Linked DNA regions of Homo sapiens. The protein of the gene in region 1 purifies or fractionates together with the protein of each later gene. This does not show direct contact. Each region holds a gene or a part of one and is shown in the gene's direction. Other genes may lie near its edges.

Evidence for each region.
Region 2: the proteins of REM1 (region 1) and BUD23 fractionate together in Homo sapiens (co-fractionation; one large-scale study listed by BioGRID). This does not show direct contact.

What each region holds. Positions count from the first base shown.
Region 1 is NC_000020.11:31,481,756-31,485,569, forward strand, and holds the end of REM1 (GTP-binding protein REM 1), read left to right. Parts: intron 1-531; coding exon 532-733; intron 734-2,403; coding exon 2,404-2,675; 3' UTR 2,676-3,140; downstream 3,141-3,814. UniProt on the Homo sapiens protein: Promotes endothelial cell sprouting and actin cytoskeletal reorganization. May be involved in angiogenesis. May function in Ca(2+) signaling.
Region 2 is NC_000007.14:73,686,597-73,690,410, forward strand, and holds part of BUD23 (18S rRNA (guanine-N(7))-methyltransferase), read left to right. Parts: intron 1-39; coding exon 40-135; intron 136-221; coding exon 222-304; intron 305-402; coding exon 403-499; intron 500-3,814.

The sequences.
Region 1 (3,814 bases):
GACTGTCTCATCCCCTTGTGAACTTACACTTTACAGTTGCTCCTTCACCTCCATCTTCAAAACTGTCCTGAAAAATGCCTTCCCTCTAAAGTCAGCCTCCTGTCCTCACTTTTCTCTCTTTTTTCTCTTCATTCTGGATTTCACCAGGCATAAAGAACCATATGGCAAGACTAAACCCTCCTCAGAAACAAGACAAAAGAGCTAAACAGGTCAAGAGAGAACCCTCTTTAGCAGGAACAGGAACCAAGTAAATTTTGCCTGCACTACCCAGCCTGCAAAAGTATCAGTGAGTGAGAGAATTCTGTGAGGTAGTGTTATTAGCCTAAATTTTTAAGCAGAGAAACTGAGGCTCAGAAAGAATCACCAATTTTCCCAAGGTGACACAGGGAATTATAGCAGAAGTTGTCCCCCACACCTGTCCAAACTATAAACCTCAAGCTGCATCCCACCCATTAGACCATCCCAGCTCCACCTTCCTCAGCCAGGGCCTAGATACCCTCTGAGGATGGGTCTTGGGTCCCTCTCCTGCAGGATAAAAGCTGGAGCCAGGAGTCATGCCTGCAGGGGGGCAGTGCCTATGTCATCGTATACTCCATCGCAGACCGAGGCAGCTTTGAGAGTGCCTCTGAGCTCCGCATCCAGCTGCGGCGCACACATCAGGCAGACCATGTGCCCATCATCCTCGTGGGCAACAAGGCAGACTTGGCCCGCTGCCGAGAAGTCTCTGTGGAAGGTGAGCCCTCCATCCCACCACCTCCTCTTCACCTGGGCCCCACTGTCATGGCTGCTCCTCCAGCGCTCTTCATCTCAGTGACTGTCCCTGCCAAGCTGCCCCTACCCTGCAGCCACTTGCCTAAGCCTGCAAGCTGGGAACCATTCTTGCCTCCCACTCATCACCCCCAAACCAGTCCCCAGATCCTGTCAGGCCACCTCCATTAATTCCACATTCCCTTCCCTCTCTGCCTACAGTCTCTGTGCTATCCTGGCATCTCCACCTTCGCCAGTCCTCCTGCTTCTCAATTATTCCTCCTTGCCACCTGCCAGAATTTTCCAAGACCAGAGTTGAATTTGCACTTCTTAAAAATTCCTGTATGTGGTGGGGCATGGTGGCTCACAACTATAATCCTAGCACTTTGGGAGGCCAAGGTGGGAGGACTTGCTTGAGCCCAGGAGTTTGAGACCAGCTTTGGCAACACAGCAAGACCTTCTCTCTACAAAAAAAATTAAAAATAATTTTAGCTCTTTTTTTAAAAAAAAATTCTGGCCAGGCCCAGTGGCTCACGCCTGTAATCCCAGCACTTTGGAAGACTGAGGCAAGTGGATCACTTGAGATCAGGAGTTCAAGACCAACCTGGCCAACATGGTGAAACCCCATCTCTACTAAAAATATAAAAATTAGCCAGGCATGGTGGTGCACACCAGTAATCCCAGCTACTTGGGCAGCTGATGCATGAGAATCACTTAAACCCAGGAGGCAGAGGTTGCAGTGAGCCAAGACCACGCCACTGCACTCCAGCCTGGGTGACAGAATGAGACTCTGTCTCAAAAAAATAATAATTTCCTCTATGGCTCCCCTAGCCCCTTAATCAGAGACACTTTATCCACCAGGATGATAGGCCCAGTGCCTACAGGCTTTTCAAGGGCTTACATTTGAGAACTGAAAAGAACCATTATTGGCTCCAAAATACAGTGAAAAAAATTAGAAATTCAAATTTCTCAAAGCTTTAATTGTCTGCAAAACATATTTTGTCAACCAGTAACTACAAACCAAAATTTTAAACGTCATATATGGCTTGTATTTACAATGGGATGGGGACTATTTTAATAAGTTTGACATATCAGATAGGGCCCATAACAATTTTTCAATGGTCTTACTCACAGAGTAAAATCTAAAAAAATGTGTAAACTGAGACCCAGAAAGGAAAAAGCTAGTTTCACAGTCACCAGCCCCTGAGGACTAGAACTCGGGCTCAGTGGCTCCTGGAGGTGGAAGACCCTATGCTTTGTGAACAGACATCCAAAAAAAAAAAAAAAAAAAACTGCAACATAAGCCCCAGGAGATTTTGTTAAAGCACAGATTTCCAGACCTCAACCCAAACCTACAGAATCAGAAACTCTGAGGGTGGGTCCAGGAATCTGCATTTAAACAAGCTCCTCCAGGTAATTCCGATCCACAGCAAATTAGACCCTTTACCTGGCATTCAATAATCTGACCCCTCCCTGACCCCAGCCTCTCTGTCTTCCCTCAAAGACCAGTCTGATTTATCTGAGTCCCCAGACAGCAGCACCAGGCATGAGCACAGGAAAAATTGCTTCCAATCGAGACTAAACACATCTCTTCCTACCTTTTTCTCCGCCTTCCGTTATGGCTCCACCCCTCCTCGCCGGGCCCCGCCCCCTTAGAGGGCCGCGCCTGCGCTGTGGTGTTCGACTGTAAATTCATCGAGACATCCGCCACGCTGCAGCACAATGTGGCCGAGCTCTTCGAGGGCGTGGTGCGCCAACTGCGCTTGCGCCGCCGGGACAGTGCGGCCAAGGAACCCCCAGCACCCCGACGGCCGGCCAGCCTAGCCCAGCGCGCTCGTCGCTTCCTGGCACGCCTGACAGCCCGCAGCGCACGCCGCCGGGCACTCAAGGCCCGCTCCAAGTCCTGCCACAATCTGGCCGTGCTCTGAAGCCCCCCGCCCTTCTGAGAGTTGGCGGGTCACTGAGGTGCATTCTGGGCTCCAGGGACGCCACTGCGGGGCAAAGGCGCCGTTACCTGGAGTCTGCATCATGGGTCTTGCTTGCCTGCTGCCCTGATGGCCTGAGCATCCCCCAGATCCAAGCCTGGGGGATCCCGGGAAAGCGATGGACAGACAGACGATGGGGCCGAAGCCCCAAGCTGGGCACAAAGTAGTTTTTTACGTGGTGGGTGTCTTTTTGTAAAAAAATCTTCCTTGTCCCTGGGCTCTGGCCAACCCTCAGAAACCCTCACAATAAACCAGACCAGAAGGATGTCCCATCTGAATGCCCAGACCTCTCCATCTCGGCTCTTCCAGGCGTCTCCACCTACTGCCCTCCCATCTACACTTGACTGTAGACTGGTCTGGCCTGCTGGCCTGGGCGTCAGGGCGCATCAATAAAGTACTTGGACCAGTTTTGTGCTCAGGCCCTTCTCTCAACAGTGGATCACAACCACAGTTCCGTGACCAGCTACTTTCTCATTAACCCATGTTTTACGTTCTAGATTCACATGTCTGGAAGGACCTCAGTACTCATCCTGGCAATAGAATTGCTGGCGTTTGTTGGGAGCTGTGTACTAAGCTGTCACAACAATTATTCCTCCCAACACCTGGGAGAAGGGTTTCCGATTAACCCCATTTTGCTCGTTAGTAAACTGAGGCAGAGGACACCGAAGGCTCACCCAAGATCATACAGCTGCTATACGCGAAGTTGCCGGGATTCCAGCCCAGGCTTGTCAGACTCTAGTGACCAACATATCCATTGTCCACTTTAAACATGATACAAAACCCTATAGAATCTTGGCAAAACGAATTTAAAAACATAATTTCGCATCCAATTTAAAGGAGGTTGGGGCAGGAGCTCTATGAAACTCAATGCATTAATCCCCGGGATGGACCCCAGTTTAATCCAACTCACTCATTTCCCGAAGGCAGAAACAAGCCTAGAGAGGGGAGGTGAGCATGCCAGAGTCACCCAGCCAGGGAGGATTACACCCCAGGGCCCAGCCTCCTCCTGGGTCTCCCTTTGGCTGTGCGGGAGGAAGGAGGTGGTGAGGCGTCCAGCCTGGCTGGGGTCAGGGCTGGGTGTT
Region 2 (3,814 bases), on another chromosome or scaffold:
ACTCCTTTACCATGTCCACTTGTGTTTCTGCCTTACCAGCTCACGGATGATTGATATCCAGACCAGGATGGCTGGGCGAGCATTGGAGCTTCTTTATCTGCCAGAGAATAAGCCCTGTTACCTGCTGGATATTGGGTGAGATTCTGGGGCCTGGTTCAGATTGTCTAAGGTGGTGAAGTGTCTTTGTAAACTGACCCTGAGTGTCTGGTCATGTCTTCCAGCTGTGGCACTGGGCTGAGTGGAAGTTATCTGTCAGATGAAGGGCACTATTGGGTGGGCCTGGATATCAGCCCTGCCATGCTGGGTAAGTATGTCCTGTCTGGCACCAGGGTGGATTACCCTGATGGGTGTGGAGAAGCCACAGGTATTTCTCTTTCTCTGACTGCCTTTTCTCTAATGTAGATGAGGCTGTGGACCGAGAGATAGAGGGAGACCTGCTGCTGGGGGATATGGGCCAGGGCATCCCATTCAAGCCAGGCACATTTGATGGTTGCATCAGGTGAGGGTCTTTAATTCCTGCTTTTATTTATTTAGAGACAGGGTCTCACTCTATCACTTAGGCTCTAGTGCAGTGTCTGTGATTATGGCTCACACTGCAGCCTCCACCTCCTGGGTTCAGGTGATCTGCCCACCTCAGTCTCCTGAGTAGCTGGGACTACAGGCCCACACCACCGTACCTAGCTAATTTTTTGTTTTTTTGAGATGGAGTCTTGCTCTGTCACCAGGCTGGAGTGCAGTGGTGTGATCTTGGCTCACTGCAGCCTTCGCCTCCCAGGCTCAAGCGATTCTCCTGCCTCAGCCTCCCAAGTAGCTGAGATTACAGGAGCACGCCACCACACCCAACTAATTTTTGTATTTTTAGTGGAGGTGAGGTTTCACTATGTTGGCCGGGATGGTTTCAATCTCTTGACCTTGTGATCCACCCTCCTCGGCCTCCCAAAGTGCTGGGATTACAGGTGTGAGCCACCGTGCACAGCCTAACTTTTTTTGTATTTGTTGTAGAGATGGGTTTTTGCTATGTTGCTCAGGCGATCCACACACCTGGGCCTCCCAAAATGCTGGGATTATAGGTGTGAGCCACCCTGGCCTCTTTCTTCCTGCTTTTAGTCCTGCAAGCCAGTGCCTCCCAAACCTGGCTGTGCAGCAGACTCATGCAGATATTTACAAATACACATCCCATGGGATTTTCAGATTTACAAGGTTAGAGCAAGGCCCAAGAGTGTATTTTTTTGGATTCTAAAACTTTGCAGTCTGGCCAACATGGTGAAACCCAGCCTCTACTAAAAAGCCAGACGTGGTTGTTGTTTTTTTTTTTTTGAGATGGAGGCTCTCTCTGTTGCCCAGGCTGGAGTGCAGTGGCGGGATCTCGGCTCACTGCAAGCTCCGCCTCCCGGGTTCAAGCCATTCACCTGCCTCAGCCTCCCAAGTACTTGGGACTGCAGGCGCCCACCACCACGCCCAGCTAATTTTTTTATATTTTTAGTAGAGACGGGGTTTCACCATGTTAGCCAGGATGGTCTCAATCTCCTGACCTCATGATCCGCCCTCTTCAGCCTCCCAAAGTGCTAGGATTACAGGCGTGAGCCACCGCGCCCAGCCTAAAAAGCTAGACATGGTGGTGGCCACCTGTAGTCCCAGCTAGCTACTCAGGAAGCTGAGGTAGGAGAATTGCTTGAACCCGAGAGGCGGAGGTTGCAGTGAGCCGAGTCCACGCCATTGCACTTCCAGCCTGGGTGACAGAGCAACACTTCATCTCAAAAATAAAACTTGTCTACTATTGCGATTATTTTGCATTGCCGGGTTCGGGCACCACTGGTACAGATTCTGTGTCAGCTTTGTGTGTCTGGTGGGGCAGAGGAGGTGGTCTTTTAGTCTCTAGCGGCCATTTTATGGGCCCCAGCCATCTTGTGGGCCCCAGCAGCCATCTTACTTTATTTGCCAACAGATAACTGGTAGAGAGCGTCTGGACTTGCTCTAATCTCTTAAGTGCTTCACAGTCCTTTCTCTGTAATCAGAGTCGGGTTAAACATCCACATAGCACTTCAATAACAGATCTTAGAATGTTAAAATTGATTAAGTTTTTCTTAGGCTGCTGTGATCAGTTCTGTTTAGTTTTTGGTGTGGTGTGGGAGTGAAAGTGAGAAAATAGGGGAGGAAGTTACAAATCATTACTTGCAGGGGAGACTTCCTTTGGTTACCCTAAGTTGAGTGGTGGGGATGTGAAGTGGGGAGCCAGGTGAGAGGTAAAAATTCAGATTAGAAGATTTTCCTTTTACATCTGGGAACAAGACCCAGGGGGGTTGGGGAATAATTTCAAGGGTAGCAGATGCTTTTTGGTAATGGTCAGATGAGGTGTTTTAAGCTGTGAAAAACCGAAGGCCAGCAGTATGGTCTGTATGTTTCGGAAGGGGATGGTCAGTTTTTGTTTGTCTTCGGGGAGAGGTGAGATGGTATAGCAAACTGTTTTTTTGGAGACGGATTCTTACTGTATTGTCCAGACTGGAGTGCAGTGGCACGATCTCGGCTCACTGCAACCTCTGCCTCCTGGGTTCAAGCGATTCTCCTGCCTTAGCCTCCTGAGTAGCTGGGATTACAGGTGCTCACCACCATGCTTGGCTAATTTTTGTATTTTAGTAGAGATGGGGTTTCACCATGTTGGCCAGGCTGGTCTTGAACTCCTGACTTCATGAACTGCCCGCCTCAACCTTCCAAAGTGTTGGGATTACAGGCGTGAGCCACCGCACCCGGCCCAGACTTTTTTTTTTTTTTTAAACATTTGCTACATGTAAGGCGTACAAGGTGCTGTGGAGTACAGGGAAATGAAACAGTTTCTGCGTGTAAGACTCTCCACGGTTTATTAGGTGCTTTAGGACATGGACCAGGCAACTGAATATAAGGGCATGAGTGGTGTGTGCCCTAGGGAGTCATGGGGCTGCCAGAGCACAGGAAAGCCTTGGGTGGAGGGGCTGCACCTTGAAGGCTGGGAGGAATTTGGATAGTCAAGGAGAGGGTTTCTGAGTGAGGGAACAGTGGGCAGAGGCACAGATGCCGGTGGGAAAGGGGTCTGAGATGAGAGGGATGAACGAGAGATTCCACGGAAGATGGGGTTGAGTGTGGTTGCTTCCTAGAAGGCACTTAAGTGTGTCCTAAGAAGTTTGGGCTTGATGGAGTAGATGATGGGGAGTTGGCAGGTGACGGGATCAGATGTGTGTTTAAGGAAGGTGATTTTCTGGTGAAAGAGGAGAGAGAGTTAGGTGGAAGCATTTGAGCTGGTAGCACTGAGCATTGGTGCGGGGAAGTGAAAGTTGGGAGAGGCTGTGGGACAAGCCAGTGGGGTGGAGGTAGGGCTCTGTGTGTGTACAGCAGGGCGGAGGGGAAGGGCAGGAAGGAAGACATAGTGACTGGTTGAGGTTTTATTTATTTATTTTTTGAGATGGAGTCTTGCTCTGTTGTCCAGGCTGGAGTACAGTGGCACAAGGCTTACTGCAACCTCTGCCTCCCAGGTTCAAGTGATTCTTCTGCCTCAGCCACCTGAGCAGCTGGTATTCAAGGCACATGCCACCAAGCCCAGCTAATTTTTGTATTTTTAGTAGAGACGGGGTTTCACCGTGTTGGTCAGGCTGGTCTCGAACTCCTGACCTCAAGTGATCCACCCATCTCAGCCTCCCAAAATGCTGGGATTACGGGTATGAGCCAATGCACCTGGCTGCTTGAGGTTTTAAATCTGGGGGTTGTAAAGACACTTAACAGGTAGAGTGGAAGGGAGTGATTTAGGAGGAAGGGTGATGGGATGGCTGTGTGTATGTGAGTAGTC